3 linked regions of the Homo sapiens genome follow. The protein of the gene in region 1 interacts with the protein of each later gene in a pairwise test. Each region holds a gene or a part of one and is shown in the gene's direction. Other genes may lie near its edges.

The links.
Region 2: the proteins of DNAJB6 (region 1) and IQUB interact in binary tests that used the Homo sapiens proteins (3 or more experiments, as listed by UniProt).
Region 3: the proteins of DNAJB6 (region 1) and C11orf54 interact in binary tests that used the Homo sapiens proteins (3 or more experiments, as listed by UniProt).

What each region holds. Positions count from the first base shown.
Region 1 is NC_000007.14:157,381,589-157,389,299, forward strand, and holds part of DNAJB6 (dnaJ homolog subfamily B member 6), read left to right. Parts: intron 1-657; coding exon 658-789; intron 790-3,278; coding exon 3,279-3,420; intron 3,421-3,952; coding exon 3,953-4,023; coding exon of another isoform or gene 4,024-4,058; exon of another isoform or gene 4,059-4,736; intron 4,737-7,711. UniProt on the Homo sapiens protein: Has a stimulatory effect on the ATPase activity of HSP70 in a dose-dependent and time-dependent manner and hence acts as a co-chaperone of HSP70. Plays an indispensable role in the organization of KRT8/KRT18 filaments.
Region 2 is NC_000007.14:123,531,596-123,539,676, reverse strand, and holds the start of IQUB (IQ motif and ubiquitin-like domain-containing protein), read left to right. Parts: upstream 1-5,081; 5' UTR 5,082-5,185; intron 5,186-6,483; exon of another isoform or gene 6,484-7,313; intron 7,314-8,081. UniProt on the Homo sapiens protein: Adapter protein that anchors the radial spoke 1 (RS1) complex to the A microtubule of outer doublet microtubules in axonemes. The triple radial spokes (RS1, RS2 and RS3) are required to modulate beating of the sperm flagellum.
Region 3 is NC_000011.10:93,751,317-93,758,671, forward strand, and holds part of C11orf54 (ester hydrolase C11orf54), read left to right. Parts: intron 1-2,365; coding exon 2,366-2,439; exon of another isoform or gene 2,440-2,443; intron 2,444-2,619; coding exon 2,620-2,721; intron 2,722-3,893; coding exon 3,894-4,070; intron 4,071-5,999; coding exon 6,000-6,149; intron 6,150-7,355. UniProt on the Homo sapiens protein: Exhibits ester hydrolase activity on the substrate p-nitrophenyl acetate, in vitro. Regulates DNA damage and repair by regulating HIF1A degradation via chaperone-mediated autophagy (CMA).

The sequences.
Region 1 (7,711 bases):
AAGCATCATCTTACGTCTGCTTGTTAACATTTGTTCAGATTTGATTTCAGCTAATCCTTAAAAGTTTTTTGAGACATCAAACTTAGAATAAAAGGAATTTCCTTTGCCGAGATTCATCAGGTATTTACACTTAGCTTACATGGCCACACCATTCCTCGTGTGTGTGTGTGTGTGTGTGTGTGTGTGTGGGCGCGCGCATGTTAGGGTAATCCATTTTTCTGTTTGTTTCTGAATTGCTTTGGAGAAGGCAACTCAGACTCCAAGGAATACAACAGCTGCCGTGTGAAGCTTTTCTCACTTTTCCAGTGGTCGTAGCAGGAACAGCGTCTTGACCTCACATCAGTGACGTGAAAAGAGCTGAGTTTGAAGTGCATATTGGTCCTCCATAAAGAATGTGTGTATGTGCTGTTTTTTTAATTAAGTCTGGTAATTTATTTGATACAATGTATTGTAGTTTTAGTTGAATTAAACTAGTTAGTAAAACTGTTGGTGAGGTAGTGTTTCAGTTACTCTGTAGATAAGCTCTTTTGTTAAAACCTCTTAAGTTTTTTGTTCCTGAATATGTTACAAACATCTATTTTCTCTTACTGTAGCTATCACATGAGGAAAAAAACTTGAAAAAAAGACTTCATAGTGTGTGTTTATGTTTGATTTTAGAAGACCCTTTTGAGGACTTCTTTGGGAATCGAAGGGGTCCCCGAGGAAGCAGAAGCCGAGGGACGGGGTCGTTTTTCTCTGCGTTCAGTGGATTTCCGTCTTTTGGAAGTGGATTTTCTTCTTTTGATACAGGTATTAAATCCCTAGGTTTAATCTCTGTTATCTTAACAGCAGTTAGTACTTATAAAATCATAATACTCTTTTAGTTAGAGTGCTTTAAAATATGTGTATACCTTTCGTAGAATAGCATTGTGGATTTGCCAGCTTTTTTTGGTATACAGGTCTGCGCTTAACCTACATTTTCTCCTAATCTTCCTAAGAATGTCGTGCTTGGAAATCTTCTCCTCTTAATATAATAATCAAGGCCAGAATGTAATGAAATTCTTAGTTAAAAAGGGGCAACATATGTTCTGCATCAGTAGGTGGAAAGTAACGCAGTTGGAAAATCTCACTAACCTTCATGCTGTCTAACCTCCTTTGTAGTTAAAACAAAAGTGCACAAATAGCATCCTAGGAGCATCCCACTGGATGGAATCGAAGGCTGGGCCTTACCACTAGCCCAGGCCAGGCTCACTCACTAGTGAAGTGTCAGCCTCACGCACGTAGCTCTTCATAGTTCACCGATGGAAACAAGCTTGTAGACTGGAGTAACATGAATATGCATATATCATGATATGCCTGTGTGTTTAGCCTGAAGAATCCCACTTTTCTCTGAAGCTCATCCAGTTTCTCTTCACAAAGGAGCTTTTTTTTTTGTTGTGTTTTGTTTTTAAATTTAAAAAGAGTCTCACTTTAGTGAGTGCCACTCTTAGTGTAGTGGCACGGTCTCAGCTCACTGCAGCCTCCCGCCTCCTGGGTTGAAGTGATTCTTGTGCCTCAGCCTCCTGAGTAGCTGGGATCACAGGTGTGCACCAGCAGGCCCAGCTAATTTTTGTATTTTTAATGGAGACAGGGTTTTTGTCGTGTTGGCCAGGCTGGTGTTGAACTGACCTCGGGTGGATCCACCCGTCTTGGCCTCCCAAAGTGCTAGGATTACAGGCATGAGCCACCACTCCTGGCCTGGAGCTGCTGTTTTGATTCTCTCATTTTTATTTTTAAGCCTCCACGATAAGAATTGGGAGAGCTTGTTATATAGGGTTCCTTCTTCATCATGGTCAGAATTTTATTTTCTTTGAACATTGCGCTCATGCCATCTAGGTAAGTAGTGAATTCTGCTCGATTGGACCTCAGTTTTGATGTGCTTTCCCTCAACAGATCCTCTCATTTGATACCATGGAATATGCTGACCACAGGTTAAGAAAGCTAGTTAAAAATACCACGTAAATTGTCCTTTTTAAAAGTAATCAGTGGCTCCTGTATGTGTGTTTGTGTGTGTGTGTGTGTGTGTGTGTGTGTGTGGTGGGGGTGTAAGCCTTCTCCACTTCTGAGGTGCCTTACAAAGTATCACAAGAATAAATACTTAGCGAGGCTTAATTGAGACCAGTGCAGTAGCCACCAGCCACGTGTAGCTCCTGAGCCCTGGAGGCCTGGCTACTCCTAACGGAGATCAGCAGGAGTGTGAAATAGTCATTGGGTTTCAAAGATGGAACATGGGAAGCAGTGTAAAATACCGCAAATGATTTTGATTTTTTGTATTTCCAATTGAAATATTTTGGATATACTGTATTAAATAAAATACTAAAATTAATGTCACTAGTTTCTGCTTTTTAGTGAAATCATTAGAAAAGGTAAACTTAACATACCTGGTTCACATATTTCTTCAGGACACCACCAGCCCTAGACAGTATCTGCGCTTAGATGATTGAATCATGTTCAGAGGTATGCGTCATTTGTGTTAATGGGAGCATTTTGGAAACAGGACAAAAGCTCTAACCAGTAGACCAGCTTTAATATCGAAAAATAGGTTTGCTTTAGTGTGACTTGTGAAAGTTTTTAGTGTCCACACTGCGATAATATCCATAATGTATAATTGAGAATGGTGTTCATGAACTGTAGAACCATAGTTTTTTGAGACGAATACTTGTATTCTTTCTGCAATTATTTTAGTTTTTTAATAATTTAGATTCTTATCCCCTGTGGTCCTGTGGCAAAGAGGAGGGAAGCCGATTAGGTTTGCTGTTCTGTGGTGGTGAGGTCACTCTGTTCCTGTGGGGTAAGAGTGTCCATCACAGTCTGTGGAGTTTACAAGCCACGCCAAAGCAAACAGAGCTTGATACCGAGGCTGCTCTGCTGGTTGGAGCTTAATACTGGTCTCGGTTCCAGAATGTTCACATTAACACAACACGTGCTTCATGGTGCCAAGCAGACCACCCACAAGCAGGGGCTGTCTTTGGCATGTCAGAAAAGCTGCTTGGGTCCCGCGAAGCTCTGCATGAGGAGAGGGGGAGGGGAGAGGCTGCACTCTCGCGTTGCCCTAGAGTCCCCACTCAGGGATCTGAGAGACAGTCTTTCCCCCTGGGCACCCCAGCACTTCAGCTGAGGCCTTGATAGTTGCGTCGTTTATTACTCCTCGGTTCTATGCCTTAACATTAAATATTCTGCTACTGAACTTTCAAACTCTTGTCTTTGCATTACTAGTTGACATATTTCTTTAAGCATTTTTCTTTTCTGTTTTCCTGTAGGATTTACTTCATTTGGGTCACTAGGTCACGGGGGCCTCACTTCATTCTCTTCCACGTCATTTGGTGGTAGTGGCATGGGCAACTTCAAATCGATATCAACTTCAACTAAAATGGTTAATGGCAGAAAAATCACTACAAAGAGGTACTGTGGTATTCTGCATTTTATATTTTTAGTAAGCAGGCGTAACGTTTCACTGGTGCCATGTTGCACGTCTCCCAGAGTGTGAAGTAGAGGTTGTTGTATGCTAAATCTGGCGCCATGAAAATCTTTTGCTCTCCAAATTCATTAATTAAAGCCTTTTCTCTTAAATTTTACTTAACTGTTGAATTATTAGAGGGAATCTTTAATGTAATACAGTGTAATAAGTTTCTGCAGCATTGTTAAAATGGTAAAATGGAAAATCATTAATAGTAAAGCCTTTACTGTTTTATAGCCTCTGCATGTATTTAGCATCCGCCTGTACGGTATTTGAGACACAATTTATTTTGTCAGGTTAATTCTATTTTAGGAAAGGAAGATGTGTTGTTGACAGGTTGGCTTCAGCCATGTTTTTACAGCCTGAAAATTACTTATATTCATGGTGTATTTCAGTAATGTCCTTAAACAACTTAGTTACCCTCACACATGCATTTTCTTTACCAGAAAGGTTTTTAAATGAATTTTTTTCCTACAGAATTGTCGAGAACGGTCAAGAAAGAGTAGAAGTTGAAGAAGATGGCCAGTTAAAGTCCTTAACAATAAATGGTAAGGAGCAGCTGCTGCGCTTGGATAACAAGTAATTCAACGCACGCACTTAACAGAAATGTTAAACTATAACAAGCACCATTTGAGGATTAACAGGAACATTTTTTTGAAGATTTCAAACGAACTCGACTTTCAGTATAATTGTACCTAAAGTATTTATAAACAGCTCATCGGAGCCTCTATTTGTCATAGACTTTTGAGTTGATTGTTGGGACCACATAATAGGACCATTTTTTTTTTGTCTTTAAAATTGTTGTAAATCTCTGTATGCACTTTGCTTTTTTATTAAACGTACTCCAAGGTGAGTCTTGACTCTTTAGTGTAGGACAAGATTGTACACTAACACCAGCATGGACCTGCTTTTCATTGTGTCTGAAATGTGAGCCACGTAGTGTCGGCCTGCTGTGAAGTTAACATTGCCAGGACGATTCTTCTACAGAAATAATTTCAATTTTTTTCAGTATTTAGTAGTGAAAGATATTAATACATTAATGGTAATACATTTCTGGTTTAATATAAATTAAGGATGTTTTCTAGTTGTGCATGAATGCTGGCAACTTAGTAAGTTTTGACAATTGTTTAAATATGTAATGTTAAGCTTAGGTTTAAAAAAGTAAAGCTGGTAAACTGGGTCTTTGTCATTTGCTTTAAAAAAAAAAAAAAAGAAAATAAATGCGAATGTGTTGGTGCATTCTTCCTGAGTGGGATCTGGAGCTTTTTTGTGTCTGTGTATGATTTGTGCCTGGGCTTCTAGTGTCACTTTAATAGCGTTTCGTGCTGTTCATTCAGGTGGATGCCGCACCTCAGTTACATGTAGACATTTTCTTCAGTATATTTGAAGTATATGAAGATTTTCATATTGTAAGTTGTGATTTAGCAATTGATCAAACATTTAATTATGGTAACATTTCTACAGGAGAGGGAAGAAACCATTGTATAATTTTTCACTCTTAAAGTATGTTCTAGTTTGATGTAAGATCACTTACGGATCCGGGCGCGGTAGCTCAACGCCTGTAATCCCAGCACTTTGGGAGGCTGAGGCGGGTGGATCACCTGAGGTCAGGAGTTTGAGACCAGCCTGACCAAGATGGTGAAACCCCTGTCTCTACTAAAAATAGAAAAATTAGCTGGGTGTGGTGGCAGGCGCCTGTAATCCCAGCTACTCTGGAGGCTGAGGCAGAAGAATTGCTTGAACCCGGGAGGTGGACGTTGCAGTGAGCTGAGATCGTGCCATTGCACTCCAGCCTGGGAGACAGAGCAAGCCTTCATCTCAAAAAAAAAAAAAAATCACTTTGGGACAGTCAAGGTCTTTTGTTTCTCAGTTTGTAATATCTTTCATGATTACCATTGGTAACTAGAATCCTAGCTGTAGTGAATATTGAACTAGACTTTGACTGAATTTGAAACTGTTTTGGAACTAAACAGCGTGAAAACCGCTAGAAGGACAGGCGGTTCCCTGACAAACAGCGTAGCGTGTTCCATCCGTGCTGGCTTTGCAGGAGGGCATAGAGATTGCTCGGGATACGCCAGAGCCCTTAAGCAACCTCACGTGCTGTTACTGAAAATAAGTAAAAAATATTTTAAGGAATTTCATAGGAGCTCAAAAAAGCATAGCAACAGTTAAGTAATTGGGGACAGTTGAAGTACAAGAAGAACAACGAGTGATGTGCTTGTCTGTTGTGTCGGAAATAACCCAGCACGCGGCACTTCCTGTCTCTGGATAAGGTAGGTATGCAGCCATGGCACGTGCGGGAAAGCGGGACAGCGCCCTCTAGTGTTGGAAATCCCACTCACAACTAGCATTGTGCGATCATAGAGCGCGCTTTTGTTTATGCCATCAGGACGGGTGGTTTTTTGTTACTAAATAAATTCAAGTAGATACTTGGACTAAGGCGTTTTATATTTTTCATTAGTGGGTGGGATGAGTCAGTGCAGCAGCCTTGAGACATCCAGGGATGTCCAGAAATACCAGGAAAATGAAAAGTCTTTACCTGTAATTCTTAAACTAGGAAGCATTTTGCTATAGCGTTGGTACTACACAATTTTAGAACACATTTGGTTGTTCTAGACTTTGTGGAGTGTTTCATGCAACTCTAGCTGTGAACAGTTTACTCAACATGGTGTTACAGGTAAAATATGTTTGACTCCTAAGGAATCTTTCTTGTGAAAATTTTTTTTTGAGGAGGAGGGAGCATTCATTTGTACTTGGGAAAACTACTGTTTTGTTTGTTTGTTTGTTTGTTTGTTTTTTTGAGACGGAGTCTTGCTCTGTCATCCAGGCTGGAGTGCAGTGGTGTGATCTTGGCTCATTGTAACCTCTGCCTCCCGGGTTCAAGCAGTTCTCCTGCCTCAGCCTCCTGAGTAGCTGGGATTACAGGCACCCACCACCACACTCAGCTAATTTTTGTATTTTTAGTAGAGATGGGATTTCACCATGTTGTCAGGGCTGGTCTGGAACTCTTGACTTCAAGTGATCCATCCACCTTGGCCTCCCAAAGTGCTGGGATTACAGGCGTGAGCCACTGCGCCTGGCTGAGAAAATTACTTTTATTCTGTTCTTCCATTGATAGAAGTGTAATTTTATTAAGTTACTAATAGAATAGAAAGCCTATTTGTTGCTGTCAAATCTTACACCTTTCATTTTTAAACCCCGTTAAGTTTATTCCTAGAGAATTCAGTCTAAGGGTGCATGAGAGTACCTTTGAAAAGTTAGGAAATGGCTGTGAGCATTGATACCATCACTCAAGTAAGTGATGGCTTGGAAGAATAATAGCATTTGATTTAAATTACAGTTTTTGGTAAATTCAACAGTCTCTTTACTTGCTGTAGTGTTGAGCGCCTCTGAAAATAGGAAGCTGAACGCTCCTTAACGGCACGTATCTGGTTGTGCACAGCCCCATGTGGTCCCATCCATTCTGGGGTGTGCTGTCTGCTGTGTTTGGTTTGTGCTCAACTTCCCTGTTTGAGATTCTTTTTTAAGTTTTATTTTTAAAGTCTTTAATTTTTAAAAATACTTCAATAGCTTTTGGGGGGGGGGTAAGTGGTTTTTGGTGACGTAGATGCATTATATAGTGAATTCTGAGATGTTAGTGCTGCTGTCACCCAAGCAGTGTATGTTGTACCCAAAGTGTAGTTTTTTAATCCCTGTTTGGCATCCTTTTGTCTGGAGGGCTCAATAATCTGTATTTTTGTCATCTCCTGTTTTCCTATTCCTTGTAGCTCCCCACCCCGTTGGTTTGATTTGAGTGATGGATTATTCCTTATATTTCTATCCTTTATAAAATTTAAGCTTTTTAGATTCCAAAGATTCCAGGCTTGATTTTGGAAACTCGGGGTTTTAAATAATCTGAAAGATGTCAATCAATAGTGGCATCATGGGCGACTTGTCATTCTTCCTCTTGGAAGTCCTTCAATGAGTAGATTTTAGAAGTGGGTAGAGTTAGTGTCACCATTTGCTAAACTTACCTGTGCACCTAGTGTGCTGAAGTAAATGTTCCTTACAATGTGGAAACGCTTGAGGAACACTGTGGGGTGATTGTCTTTCCAATCAATTTTAATTTCTGTTTATTAATTAGAGCTTGAAAAATGCCTGCTTATCCTGTCTTGATTACCTTCTAGATATCATTTCTTTCCGGGAATACTGATCTTGTTTTAAGCACTATAGAATGAATTAGAAACATTTTTATTT
Region 2 (8,081 bases), about 34 Mb from region 1:
CGTTTTTACTCCTTCAGTCTTTTCCCAGTTGCTTCCTATAAACATCCAGGTTAAGTCTCCTGATCACTTTGCAAATGATTCTTTTATTCAGAGATCTTCAGTGTTTTGAGTGGCTACTAAACTAATTTTAATAATTTTCAGAATGGCCTATTTCAGTTCTCCCATGGGTTTCATTCTAGTTAATCATCATACTGCAGATACTTCAAAAGAAAGAGAAGCTAATCAATTTGAGCTTTGCTAAGAAAGAAGAAATGGCAACAAAGTTGATGCCCCCTTTCTCCCACACTGGGACTTAGTGCAGACGATTCCAATTTCTTGGCATTCTTTCCTTTGGGATGAAAATGGCTTATATTTAGGATAACTATAGGATAATTTATCATTCCACTTGGAATGATTTTGAGTGAAAATAATTACATAAGGATAACAGATGTACACCATGACTGTCCTGGGCAAACAAGATATAGGGGGGCACCCTACTGGAGTAAGGCTCAGGTCTCAAGGTTGCCATCTTTCCCACACCAGTAGGATCAACTAGTCTGTCATTGGAATAGAATGAATTGATGCCAGCAGTAGTAGTCATCATGTGCAATCAGGCCTCAAGTTTTATTGTATCCTTTCACTCTCCCTCATTCTCCCCTCCCCCTCCTTTTCCCTCAGAATTGGGGGATGGAAGAAAAGAGAGCTTATATTTTATTGTCAATTTTCTAATCACATTCAGAGGAGCGAAGCTAATTAAGCCAATAACAATGTTTATGAATGTATCTTTTTTAAAAGGGAGATGACAATATATAGGAAAATTCCCACATGTAGGCTAATAGCAGCTTTTTCTTTTTCCTCCCATCCTCTATGATTATGTAAACATACAGAAGTCTAACACCCTACACAAGTGTATTGTGGGGTATGGGATTAAGTACCAAATTGCTGAACATATCACTAGTATTTTGGATTTGCTGAGTGCAGTCTTCCCATTAAAACTAAGTGTTCAGTAGGGAGGCGTGGTGGCTCACACCTATAATCCCACTACTTTGGGAGGCCGAGGTGGGTGGATCACTTGAGGTCAAAAGTTCGAGGCCAGCCTGGCCAATATGGTGAAACCCCGTCTCTACTAAAAACAAAAACAAAAACTAAGTGTTCAGTGAGATTGTAGCCTATGCTACAACAATAGTAATGCCAATTGTTTTAGAGAAAAGTAAATGAGAGGCTACCAGTTGTGTTTAGAGGAGGTCGACGTTTTATTTTAGACAAAATTCACAGGAAATCACAGTGGGAATGTGATAAGGGGTTTGAATGATTGATGGGGACAGGAAGAATTCATTTGAGAGACTAGAGATGAGTCAGTATTCTAGATCGTGAAGTAAAATAGTGAGTCATGTAGTGACTTAGCATGGGTTATCCTTAAATCCCAGTGTCTTAAGTGTATTTTTTATTCATACTGCATGTCTAAGGAGGGTTGGCAAGGAGTGCTCATAGACCCACAAGGAATCCAGGCTGAGTGTGGCACCATCAACATATATTTCCATGACCATAGTGGTGGTGGGGAATTGGAACATGGTAAATTACACATAGGAATAAAAAAAAAGAAACAACCAAGGTTAAATTTTTTTTTGACTGTGCCACAAAATTTATGAATTGAACTTGCCATGCATCACTAATAATTTTCAAATTGGTCTTTAGGTTTACATTAGCAGCTAATTTTTTGTGGTACACTTAAATGTAATTTATGATTGGCATCTGTATATAATTAAATGAAAAGCATTGCAAAGATTTCTATTTTGGTATTTCTCATGATCTTCAATTTTTTTTTAGGTGAATCTATTAGGTTTTCTAAAGATAACTATTTTTTTTTTTTTACAAAATATTGGCATTTTAATCTCTCTATAACTGGAGGGTGAATTATTTTTCACCAGAGTAAAACAGGTCCAAAGTCCCTTATCTAAATTCCTAATTTCAAAAATCTCTGAAAACAAAGTTTTTTCATAACTCATTTGGCAACAAACCCCACCTGAATTACATGAGGCTATTTGTGGTATTTATCGCACTTCAATGTGAATATGAATATATTTTGCCACAGATGTATCAATATATTTGATTCTAAACTGCTTCCTCAGACCCTCTTAATGTGTTACATAATGTAAAGTATATGCCCATATTTCCTTTCAAAAATCTGAAAAATTGTGAATATCAAACACATCTGTCTTAAAAGGTTTCAGAAAAGGGACAATAGACCTATATTTCCATTCTCTTAACAAGTTCACAAAGTGGTATTATGATCCAAATTTAATCTAAATAATTTCCAAAACAAAAATTTTCAGGTCCTTAGTTTTCTAAATTATTTTAATATTAAAAATATTCATTATTCATTTTAACCTGTAGTAACAACAGGAGATACTTTGAAATGCTTGATTTTATCAAGCCACTAGGTGGCATCTTTGTAAAAATAAAAGCACATCAAAAGAAATGTTTATTACATAAATAAATGCTGAGATGAATAAAGGTAGATGTTTCATGAGAAATACGAAGTCGTTTGGTGGAATAAATCCTGAGAAAATGCATAGATTTATCATGAAAAGGAAAATGGAAAATGGTATTGTAAAATTACTCTTTCACTTTTGGAATTGAGAAGCTTTTTCCTATTGGTTGTTTTCATTAAGTTTGAATATAAATTTATTATGTAACCAAACTACATTTGTGTGTATGTGCGTGTATGTGTGCGTGGACAGGATTTTGACATGCTAATAACTTTTCCATGCTCCACAGACTACCCAAGGAAGCCTAACTAAGTTAGGTTCCTATTTAAGATTAAATTGTATAAAGTCATCCTCACAGCAAACTACAAAAAAAAATGAATAGTGGCTATCAAGTCACATTTAACACTGTGAGACACTTAAGTTCTCTCCTACCAGTTTTTCTTCCCCCATCTCCTGACTCTATTCCTAAACCTACTGTTTGCATACCGTCTCTAACATTGAGAACAGTGAATGACAAATTTTAAAGAGGAGACCCAGCAAAGTGAATGTTTAAAACCAGTGGAATGTTTATTAGTAGCAGAATGTAAGATAAATTATGATTTTGGAGATGGGAGTGTATGAGTGTTTGTAAAATCTTATCTGCACACCTCCACACCTGGTCTACCCATCCAAGAAAGCCTAATTCTAGTGGTTACCTCTATGCCCATTTTTCCCCTTTACTTTTCATGAATGTGTGGAAATGATTAAAATGAATTTACTTTTACTGATCATTATTAAAACAAAGCCAATTTTATCTGAATATATATTTCACTATTCTAGTAAAAATATATTTTAAAATGGGATGACTGAAAAAAATGGCATTGGATATTACAAAGTTATTGGGGAGATGAGAGTGCAATTTCAGCAGAACAGTATAAAGAAATAAATGAAGACAATGAACATTTATGAATAAGGGAATGGACCTGTATTAATTTTATTAATCCTTTTAACATATCAAATCAAATTAAACAGTACTGTAATGGTTAAAAAATCTGGGACCTGGAGTTAGATTGCTTAGGTTTAATCCTGGTTCCCTCATTAAACTTTGTGTGCCTTAGTTTTCTCATTTACAAAATGGGTCTAATAGCAGTTTCTCCCTAATAAAATCGTTGTAAGGATTAAATTAGAAATCTATGTACGGTGCCTCATGACAATGAATACTTCATAAATGTTAGCTGCTATTATGAGATAGCAACATGTAGTTTGTTACTAAATTTCCAAGAGGAACATACTTGACTTGACCTCCAATACTATCCTGTGGTTCTTTAAAAGTTTTCTTATTCATTGATAGGCCGGGCGCGGTGGCTCACTCCTGTAATCCCCAACACTTTTGAAGGCGGATTGCTTGAGGCTAGGAGTTCCAGATCAGCCTGGCCAACATGGTGAAACCCCATCTCTACTAAAAATACCAAAATTAGCCGGGGGTGGTGGCGGGCGCCTGTAATCTCAGCTACTCAGGAGGCTGAGGCAGGAGAATCGCGGGAGCCAGGGAGGTAGAGGTTGCATTGAGCCGAGATCGAACCACTGCACTTCAACCTGGGCGACAGAGCAAGACTCTGTATACACTAGAAAAAAAAAAAAAAAAAAGAATTTGTTGTTAGACAAAATTTAGTTTATTAACTAATTTAGTGATTAACAAAAGTTCTTCTAAGCAGAATTATTTGATAGCTACTATCTCCCTTTTCTCTTTGGCTGCCAGGAAGCTGAGAGCCAAGTTGTTAGTTTAACAAAAGCAAGTAGGCACCTGACAGTTTCTCGCCTCTGACTTCATCGTGATGATTTCTCTGACTCGGATTTTTTTTATATCTGTAAAATTAAACTGCTGTCAGTGTTTGGTTTAGAGAGCTGTGCCGTTTCACAAGTGTAAAAGATCTTGGAGAGAAGTTAGTGTCCTGATTCACTTGGATCTAGGTAGCCAGTTGGTAACAGCCTCCGCCTCTGGCTCCTCCCCTTCTCCCTGCCGCGTCCCTCCTCCCCGCCCCTTCGCCTCTGGCCCCGCCCCTTCTCCCTGCCGCTTCCCTCCTCCACGCCCGCTCGCCTCTGACTCCTCCCCTTCTCCCTGACGCGTCCCTCTTCCTGTCTCTTCGCCTCTGGCTCCTCCCCTTTCTCCTGCCATGTTTCTTCTCCCCGCCCCCTCGCCTCTGGCTCCTCCCCCTTTTCCCTATCGCGTTCCTCCTTTGCAGCCCCCATCCCCCTCCTCTGGCTCCTCTTCTTCCCTACCGCGATCCTCCTTCCAGACCCCGGCCCCCAGCCCGCCTCTAGCTCCTTCCCTTATTTCCTGCCGCGCTCCTCCTTCCCGACACCGCCCCTCCGCCTCTGGCTACTCCTCTTCTCTCCTGCCGCACTCCTCCTTCCCGGCCCCACCTCCCCGCCTCTGGCTCATCCCCTTCTCTTCTGCCGCCCTCCTCCTTCCCGGCCCCGCCCCCAGTCTTTGGCTCCTCCCCCTACCCTGCCGCGCTCCTCCTTCCCGGCCCCTCCCCGCTGCCCTCTTCTGGCTCCTCCCCCCCACCCGCCTCTGGCTCCTCTCCTTCCCACCCCTGCCGTGCTCCGGCAGGAAGAGGTGGTGCCAGGGCCGTTGCTAGGATACGACCAACAGCTGAGAACGCGGCGAGTATGGAAGCTGCGTCTTAGGAGCCTGGGAAAGCACTTCGACGAGAATAGTTTGGTTTCGTACACAGGTAGGAGAACAGATTTTGACTGCGGCCTCCTGGTCCGACGCTTAGATCCAGCCTAGAGCCGGTGACAGCCGCGCTGGACTCTGGGTTCTGTGTGCTGGGCAGTGATTCCCACCTGAGCGCCTGGGGCTGCCTAGTCGGTCAGGAATGTTCCGACTTTACTTTAAAAACCGTGCGAAGCATCTCATCTTTCTCGGCTCCTTTTTTGGCTTCCCCTCTCTGATTTGGGACTTGAACCAGCAGCATCAAGCTAGGAGGTACACCTCACCTCACACCCTGGGTGCTTGTCACGGTAATTGCATAGAAGATGTGTGTATAACCCACACCTGGCACTAGAGACTCTTAGCCTTCCGTGGCCACCATTCTCATATTAAGTCGAGAGATTTTAGACTTTCCTCACCTGGCACTCTCACTCCTTCCTCTCCACCCTTGGTCTTTGCCTCTTAACAAACCTAAAAATTCAACAGATCTATTTGGTAGAAGGCAATACTGGATCCCTGCCTCACTAATTATACTACATTCTAAATGTGTTAAGCTTTAAATGGTAGGGAATGAAATGTAGGTGAAAAGGGAGACTTTTTTGTATGCAAACATGATAGAGGTTGCTTTTTAAACAATAAGATTTAAACATTTTCATTTGAATAGATAATACATAAAAAAATAGTTCGAATAGTAAAAAGAATGAAGAGTGAAAATCCTCCATCTACCCATTTCTCCCCATCTCCAGGCCACCTTCCACAGGTGTTTTAGACATACGCAAATATGTAGTTACACCTGTAACATTGTGCATACTCTTCTGTGATTGGCTTTTACACTTAAGACTGTGTGTCCAGTTGTTTTCTATCAATATTTACAGATCTGTCTCATTTATGCATTTATGGATGAATTTATGTATTTATGTTTCATTGTGAGAAGGTGTTTCGAAGCATGTCAGGAAATTTGGAAACTCTCATAAGCAAAAAGATTGATAAATGTCACTACCTAACAATCTAAAACTTTTATATAGTAAGAGAAAAACAACATCAAACATACAATGGGAAATATAAGGGCAACACACAACAAAGGGATATTTAATTATTAGGACTCATAAAACAATATGAGGATGTAAGGAAACAGTCAAGGGGAACTTCTTGGGGCTATAATAGAAAACAGTTTGATGGAATTTAACAAAATTAAGATCTGTATGCCCTTTGACTTGTCCATTCTAATTCTGGGAACTCATTTTCAGTATACTTACACATATATACAGAGATAGATGTATAAAATGTTTGTTGCAGCACTATTTTTAATAGTAAAAAACTAGAGGGGTCTGCATGGCGGGGCCTCGGAGCCAAGACGAGGTTGAGTAGACTCGTTTTGAATTTTCTCCCCTCTGCTCCGGCGGACTTCCCATGTCGCCTTGTGGGGCTATCGGCGGCGGCAGGACTGGGGGAGTCAGAGGTCTGGCAGCGCTGTCTGCGCAGACCTACCGGACGCTACCTCCCAACCCCCCTTTCTTCCTCCTGCCTCCTCCTCCTCCCGTCACCTCCTGACCCGCCGGAGCTCCGAGCAACTGCCGGCCTCCGCCCCCAGCCGCAGCCGGTCACTGGCGGCGCCTTCCGCGCCAAGCTTGGGGGCCTTTTCGGGGTCCTACATGGCACGGCTTCCGACCCCCGGCCCGGGACGGGGCTCGCAGGCCCCAGAGGGGCAGGCTGGAGAAGGAGGAGGTTAGGTGTCTTCAGGAGGGTTGCTGAGCCCAAGGACGCGCCATCGCCGCGGAGAAGGAGCCGGACCCCTTGGGCGGAGCGCCCAATGTGTGGTCCCTCACGCCGTCCCGCACCTTGCTTTTTAGGGTTCTTTTTCCGCTTTCTGAGCCCTTTTATACCTTACGTTTAGAAGGGGAAAATCATCCTCCCACACCTTCTCCCCGACTTTTTGCCTTTTTTGTCTTGAAGTTACCCAAAGGTCTGTGTATTGTTCTCAGTGGTCCCAAGAATTACTCGAATATAGTTGTTTTTCTGAGGGAGGATGGATGGAGATAACTATCCTGATCCCAGTGTCACTTTTTAAGGCATTCGCTTCAAGAGACAAGCAGTTTAGAATCAGGCAGAACTGGATTGCAAAATTTATGGGCAGACCGGTATGTGTGAAGGTGAAGACAAAGCTTTCCTTTTTTACGTTGTTTAAAGATGTCCTACTGTAAGGTAGACGCCTAATATTTAAATGAACGCCTAATATTTAAATAGAGAATGAGAAGAGATTTAAACAATTGGAAGAAAAAAATAATTTTTATTAGAAAGCAATGACAATAAAAGTAGGACTCTTTTCAGTTTACTCACCTTTGTAACTCCGAATCCGGGCCCTGGAACCAGAATTCCTGGGTTCAAATCCTGCCTCTGCTACTTGATTAACCTTTTTGTGCCACACTTTTATCAACTGTAAGAATTAACTGCGCCATCGGAAGCACTCAGTATATGTTAATTATTATCATCAAATAGTTACTAATTCCAGTTTAACTAGAAGCTTTGCCAGCGTGAATAGATAAGGGAGAATAGCCACATTGAGTGGAGGAATAAAATTAGAAAACCTCTGTGCTGAAGTCCCAGGAGATCACTTATTAGGCTTGAGCTTGCTAATGGAAGTGGTGATCGTTTAACCATGTGGTTATTGTAGTGGTGAAGATTTACACATTAAATAAGTCTTGGGCATCTGAAGCTTGAAACACTTTCTTAATGAAATCTTGCCGTTGAATCTGTACTTACTGATAATATGTCATTGGTTAAAATATATTTATAAAATGTATAATTGACCAGCAGGTTAATACATTTTTATCATTAATTTGAAATTTATCAAAATGAGAATATACAGTACCTGACGGTCAGTGGAGTTTGATCTTAATTTGATTTGAAAATTATGATCA
Region 3 (7,355 bases), on another chromosome or scaffold:
GCTGTAAATTCTAGAAGGCTTGTGTACCATGTGGCAATTTCTTTTAGCTTCTTCAAAGGATTTAGCATAGTACTTTTTTATAGTTTTTTTTTTTTTTTTTTTTTTTTGAGACAGAGTCTCACTCTGTCACCAGGCTGGAGTTCAGTGGCGCAATCTCAGCTCACTGCAACCTCTGCCTCCCAGGTTCAAGCGATTCTCCAGCCTCAGCCTCCTGAGTAGCTGAGACTACAGGCATGTGCCACCACGCCTGGCTAATTTTTTGTATTTTTAGTAGAGACAGGGTTTCACCGTGTTAGCCAGGATGGTCTCGATCTCCTGACCTCGTGATCCGCCCACCTCGGCCTTCCAAAGTGCTGAGATTACAGGCGTGAGCCACCACGCCCAGCCTTGATTTTTTTAAAAATATGAGTGTAATGTATTTCCCCTGCTAATTAAGTAATTAACTAAAATTAAATAAAGGTCAGGAGACAGAAGAGTACAAGAAAGAAGGAAAAATGGTTAATCTTTTTTTTTTTTTTTTTTTTTTTGTGTGTGTGTGTGTGAGATGGAATCTCGCTCTGTCGCCCAGACTGGAGTGTGGAGTACAGTGGCACAATCTTGGCTCACTGCAATCTCTGCCTCCCGGGTTCAGGCGATTCTCATACCTCACCCTCCCAAGTAGCTAGGATTACAGGTGTGCACCACGACACCTGGCTAATTTTTGTATTTTTAGTAGAGACGGGGTTTCATCATGTTGGCCAGGCTGATCTCGAACTCCCAGTCTCAAGTGATGTGCCCGCCTCGGCCTCCCAAAGTGCTGGGATTACAGGTGTGAGCCATCATGCCCAGCCAAAATGGTTAGTCTTAATTTTGTCATGCAGAGTTATGCTTGGAAGAAGTGTTTTCTGGTCAGTAATTTGTGAGTCTTTAAATTGCAATACTAGAAGCCAGATATGCATCTAATATGTGTATGTATGATCTTTCATAAACATAGGAGTTTAAGACCAAACTGGCCAACATGGTGAAACCCAATCTCTACTAAAAGTACAAAAATTAGCTGGATGCAGTGGTGTGTTAGACATTTTCTACATGAACTGGTCTTGCTAAGATCACCAGTGACCTTAAAATGTTTACTAGTACTATTTAACCTCTCCACGTATTTCATACTGCTTGGCCATTGCTGCCTGACATTCTCCCCTAGGTTCTATCTTCTCTATCCTTGTTTCACCTGTTCTTCCTTTGTGCCTTTCCTTCCTCTTTTCTTCCATATTTTCCTGGTTCCTTTTTCTTTCTAATAGTCTCTTAAATATTGATCTTTTCCAGAATTCTTTCCTTAGCCTCTTCTTATTTCTAGTAATCTATCTGGGTATTTTTTAAATCCACTCTTATGGTTTTAATTACTACCTGAATATAACTTTGAAATTTGTACATCTCACCTAGATCTCTCTGGGTTTTTTTTTTTTTTTTTTTTGAGACGGAGTCTCGCTCTGTCACCCAGGCTGGAGTGCAGTGGCGCGATCTCGGCTCACTGCCAGCTCTGCCTCCCAGGTTCACACCATTCTCCTGCCTCAGCCTCCTGAGTAGTACACCCAGCCTCCTGAGTAGTACGCCCGGCTAATTTTTTGTATTTTTGGTAAAGATGGGGTTTCACCGTGTTAGCCAGGATGGTCGCGATCTCCTGACCTCGTGATGTTTTGTTTTTTGAGACAGAGTCTTGCTCTGTTGCCCAGGCTGGAATACAGTAGCACAATCTTGGCTCACTGCAACCTCTGCCCCCGCCGGGTTCAAGCAATCCTCCTGCCCCAGCCTCCTTGGTAGCTGGGATTATAGGCTCCCGCCACCATGCCCAGCTAATTTTTCTATTTTTAGTAGAGATTCACCATGTTGGCCAGGCTGGTCTCGAACTCCTGACTTCAGGTGATCCACCCGCCTCAGCCTCCCAAAGTGCTGGGATTGCAGGCGTGAGCCACCATCTGAGAATTTACATTGTACCAGAGCAAAATATTTTAAATTAAAAAACAAGAAACAATTTTAGCCAAAAAAAGGAAAACCACCCCAAAATAGATTTTTTTTAAAGAAATAAGGCGTCAAAGACATTCTAGAAACCTTACCCAATCCAAACTTTGGCCCCAGTTCTAACCCTTGCCCTTGCCTTGTATTGCCTTTATGCCACCAACTTTATAAGCCATGCTTGGTTATGATGATTATTAGAGACACAGGTACTTAAAATAGGACAGGGGTTCTAGCCACTATGTCTTCCAATCCCTGTTATTTGTAAAACTTTATGATAATGGAGAAGTTATATACTGTTGGCATTTTATTATTAAATTAGATGTTTGCCTGTTTTTAAGGTGGCTTGTGTTTTTGTTTTTTGGTTTTTTCTTAGGCATCTGTGGGAAAACTAGAATTGCAGAAGTTGGAGGTGTGCCTTACTTATTGCCTCTTGTAAACCAAAAAAAAGTAAGTACTTTTACTCTGCATATTCACATGAAGATTGTAGAAGTTGGGTTGATTACTGTGTTTATTATTAGAAGACCTGTTGATCAGTTGGCAAGGAAGTGCTAATGGATCAGTAATAAAAGGTAAACCAGGGACTTTGTACAAGTTGTGACTTAAATAATATTTTTTCCTCTTCTATAGGTTTATGATCTGAATAAAATTGCAAAAGAAATCAAGCTGCCTGGAGCCTTTATTCTTGGAGCAGGAGCAGGTCCATTTCAGACTCTCGGGTTCAATTCTGAGGTCAGCATATATAAGAAAATTATTTTACTTTATTGGTTTGACATTTGGTTTGTCTTTTTGCTTTTAGTGCCAAAAATCCTACTTTCTGAGTGAATTGTAAATCTCTCTGCAGGTTTGATACTACTTGATGTAGATTTCTGCTATAGCACACACTCCAACTGGACTAACTGTAATGGAGTACTAACTTGTAGTTTTAGATTTTCTTAGGTCATAGCTTCAGCCTTAGATAAATGCAGGGTTCTATGGTATTCTGTTGAAGGTTCTGGATTATAAAATATTTATATTCTTACAGGATTCCGAGCTTATCTATAAATCTTTGCTTTGGGTATGCAGGCAGCTTTGGATTAGAAGATGAATGGAATATTAGTGATCTAGTCAACTCCTTCTTCCACACCAAATAGTAGGAAACTATCACAATAGTATGATGGTTATTTATGAAAGTTAATAGTTATTACTAGTATATATTATTACCATATGAAAATATTACTGTTTCTTTGAATCTCATGAATACAAGACTTCAGTCTGCTCATTCTCTCATAACCTCTTCAGATATGAATAGTAGTCATACAAGTTCTTTGCAGAAACATTAGTACAATTTGCCTAGTGTTCAAGTTAGGAAAAAAAGTTAAAAATTTAAAATAAGATATTTAACGCAAGTTATAGATACACTGTAAGAAATCCAATAAATATCTTTTTTTTTTTTTTTTTTTTTTTTGAGATGGAGTCTCGCTCTGTCGCCATGCTGGAGTGCAGTGGCGCGATCTTGGCTCACTGCAACCTCCACCTCCCAGGTTCAAGCAATTCTCTTGCCTCAGCCTCTTGAGTAGCTGGGACTACAGGTGTGTGCCACCACGCCCAGCTAATTTTTGTATTTTTAGTAGAGACAGGTTTTCACCATGTTGGCCAGGATGGTCTTGATCTCTTCTCTTGACCTCGTGATCCGCCCCCCTTGGCCTCCCAAAGTGCTGGGATTACAGGCATGAGCCACAGCGCCCGGCCTATAAATGTTTTCCAAGTTTTTTATGTCTAAAATTAAATATTATGTATTTTATGTTCTCTTATTAGGACTTGAACTAAAATGTCTTAAAAGGATTAAATGTTTTGTAACATTATTCAAGATATTCTCTTTGCAGAGATACAAAGATTGACTAATTGCCTCACTTTCTTTTCAGTTTATGCCAGTTATTCAGACAGAAAGTGAACACAAGCCTCCTGTAAATGGAAGTTACTTTGCCCATGTGAACCCTGCAGATGGAGGGTGCCTACTGGAGAAATACAGTGAGAAATGTCATGATTTTCAGTGTGCATTACTGGCTAATCTTTTTGCCAGTGAAGGCCAACCTGGCAAGGTGATTGTGTCCATAAAAATACAATATTCCCTAAATGTTCTCAGAAAGCTAAAAATGTGAACTTTTACTGCCATAAATATGGTTTTGCTAAGAAAATTAGTTTCCCACTTTGGGAGGCCAAGCTGGGTGGATAACTTGAGGTCAACTTGAGGTCAGGAGTTCAAGACCAGCCTGGTCAACATGGTGAAACCCCATCTGTACCAAAAAATACAAAAATTAGCAGGGTGTGGTGGTGTGTGCCTGTAATCCCAGCTACTCGGGGGGGCTGAGGTGAGAGAATCGCTCAGACTCGGAAGGCAGAGGTTGCAGTGAGCCAAGATCATGCTACTACCCTCCAGTCTGGGCCACTGAGTGAGACTCTGTCTCAAAAAAAAAAAAAAAAAGAAAATTAGAGCTTCCTAAGTCAAAGCTCTTTAAATAACCCAGTAATGAAAGGTTCAGAGAGTATGACAGGCAGAGCAAAAGTCATCTTTAAGGTTAAGAATAATATGGCTGGAGGCCAGACGCGGTGGCTCACGCCTGTATTCCCAAGCATTTTGGGAGGCCAAGGTGGGTAGATCACCTGAGGTCAAGCATTTGAGACCAGTCTGGCCAACATAGCGAAACCTCGTCTCTACTAAAAATACAAAAATTAGACAGGGAAGGTGGCACATGCCTGTAGTCCCAGCTACTTGGGAGGCTGAGGCAGGAGAATTGCTTGAACCTGGGAGACAGAGGTTGCAGTGAGCCAAGATTGCACCATTGCACTCCAGCCTGGGCAACAAAGCAAGACTCTGTCTCCAAAAAAAAAAAAAAAAAAAAAAAGAATAGTATGGCTGGCACAATGGCTTATGCCTATAATTCCAGTCCTTTGAGAGGCCAAAGCTGGAGGATCACTTAAGGCTGGCAGTTTCAGACCAGCCTGGGCAACATGGCAAGACCCTGTCAAAAAAAAAAAAAAAAAATTTTTTTTTTTAATTAGCCAGGTGTGGTGGTACATGCCTATAGTCCTAGCTACTCAGGAGGCTGATGCAGGAGGATCCCTTGTGCCCAGGTGTTTGAGGCCGCAACGAGCTATGATCACACCACTGCACTCCTACCTAGGTGACAGCAAGACCTGTCTTAAAAAAAAAAAAAAAAGACTACTTAGTAAGCAAGACCTTTTTCTGAGAACTAAAAGGTAATAGAATATTAATTTGGGGAGTGAGTTTGTCATCTACATGAACCATACAGCTAAAATAAATAATGCCTACTTACAGGTAGTAAATAGGTTATTTGCTTCTTTCTGATGAATCACACATTGCTCTAGATAGAAATGGTGGTAGCAAAAACTTACAGCAAGAACAAAGTAAGGAAAACTAATGCCTTACTTGATATTTACTTCCTATTAGTACACAAAAATATGATTTCAGTGTTAGCTTTTGTGAAGACTCTCCAGTTTTGGAAGTAGAGATAGCCTCTTCAGCTACTTTGAGATAAGAGATTGAGAAGTGAAAATACTTAACGTCCAAGTTGTGGAGATAATACAGAATTTTAAGGGAAGTGAGAAAATGTAATCATTTTCTCCTCATCCCCACTTACCAAAGGTTAATTCCTTTAACCAAAGAATTACCAAAGGTAATTCTCAATCTTTGACTGCCTCGACACGTATGTTAAGAGTCTCTAGACTCTCTGCACTGAGAAACTTGTCTTTCTCAGTTTCTCAGTTCAAGAAAGCATGCTTAAGACTTACTAGTAAATTACATGTAACTGATAAGTATGTGTGTGTGTGTGTGCATACATATATATATGACTGATCAAAATTCACGGGATTGCAACATCTCAACTCAGATCTGGGGGCTCTAAGCAAAGAACAGAATATTTGCTTGATAGAATTAAATTATATAATGTTTTATTTCAGTAGTTATTTTGCAGCATAGTCAATGGTATGCATCTTTATGTCCTCTATAGGTAATTGAGGTGAAAGCCAAAAGAAGAACTGGACCACTTAACTTTGTGACTTGTATGAGAGAGACCCTGGAAAAACATTATGGAAATAAGCCTATAGGAATGGGAGGTACTTTCATAATTCAGAAGGGAAAAGTGAAGTCTCACATTATGGTAAGAGCCCATGTGTGCATACATGCATGAAGGAGTTTGTGTGTGTGCACTTACTTAAGATCTTAGGATTTTTTTTTTTTTTTAAACGGATCCTTGCTCTGTTGCCCATGCTGGAGTGTAGTGGCACAATCTTGGCTCACTGCAACCTCCATCTCCCGGATTCAAGGGGTTCTCCTGCCTCAGCCTACTGAGTAGCTGGGATTATAGGCATGCAGCATCACAACCGGCTCATTTTGTAGTTTTAGTAGAGACAAGGTTTTGCCACATTGGCCAGACTGGTGTCGAACTCCTGACCTCAGCTGATCCACCTGTCTCGGCCTCCCAAAGTGCTGAGATTACAGACGTGAGACGCTGCACCGGGCCAGATCTTAGGATTGTAAAGTATGTGTTGGGAATTCTACATTTGAAGACACTTTAAACAAATCCTTTTTATTATGATTGTATTACTTTAAAATTTAAATGATAATTTTATAAATCAGATTGTAAGATAATATCTTTGTCCATGTTAGTATATTAGAACTTTATTTTGGATATGTTTGTTTTTAAGATCAAGATAAATTCAAGGCCTGCAGAGTGACTCATGCCTGTAATCCCAGCACTTTGGGAGGCCCAGGTGGGAGGACCGCTGGAGGCCAGGAATTCAAAACCAGCCTGGTCAACATAGTGATGATGGCAGCGGCAGGCTCTCTGGAGCGGCTGCAGCAGGGAGGCACGGCTGAGGCTACACACTCTATGGAGCGGGTGGGAGCTGAAGACAGGTGGGAGTCCTGCCCCTTCCGAGTTGGCGCTGGAGCTCCGTTGGTGCCGCTGCAATCGCCCAAGCCATGGCTGTAGTCCCTGGCATCCCTGTGCTCTCCCAGTGGGAACAGGCGAGAGCCCCAACTGCCCAGGCGCAGCTGCAGCAGCTCAAACCCGCGGCTGCAGACCTGGGTCTCCCGCTCCACGGAGCAGGCAGGAGCCCTGCCTTCTCCACACAGCTGCAGCTGCCCAAACCGTGGCTGCGGACCCAGGCATTCCTGCATTCTTGGGGGTCTGGGAAGGCCCCCACTGCTCTTACAGGCTTGGAAATGCCTGCTCCCACTGCCTGGCTTCTCCCTGCTGTCGGCGCCTGCTCCGATCCAGGAGCAAAGTCAGGCAGAGCCCGGTCGCTGTCGCAGCCCAGCCAGGTGTGCACACGCTCAGGGCACTGCTGACACACCAGCCCCC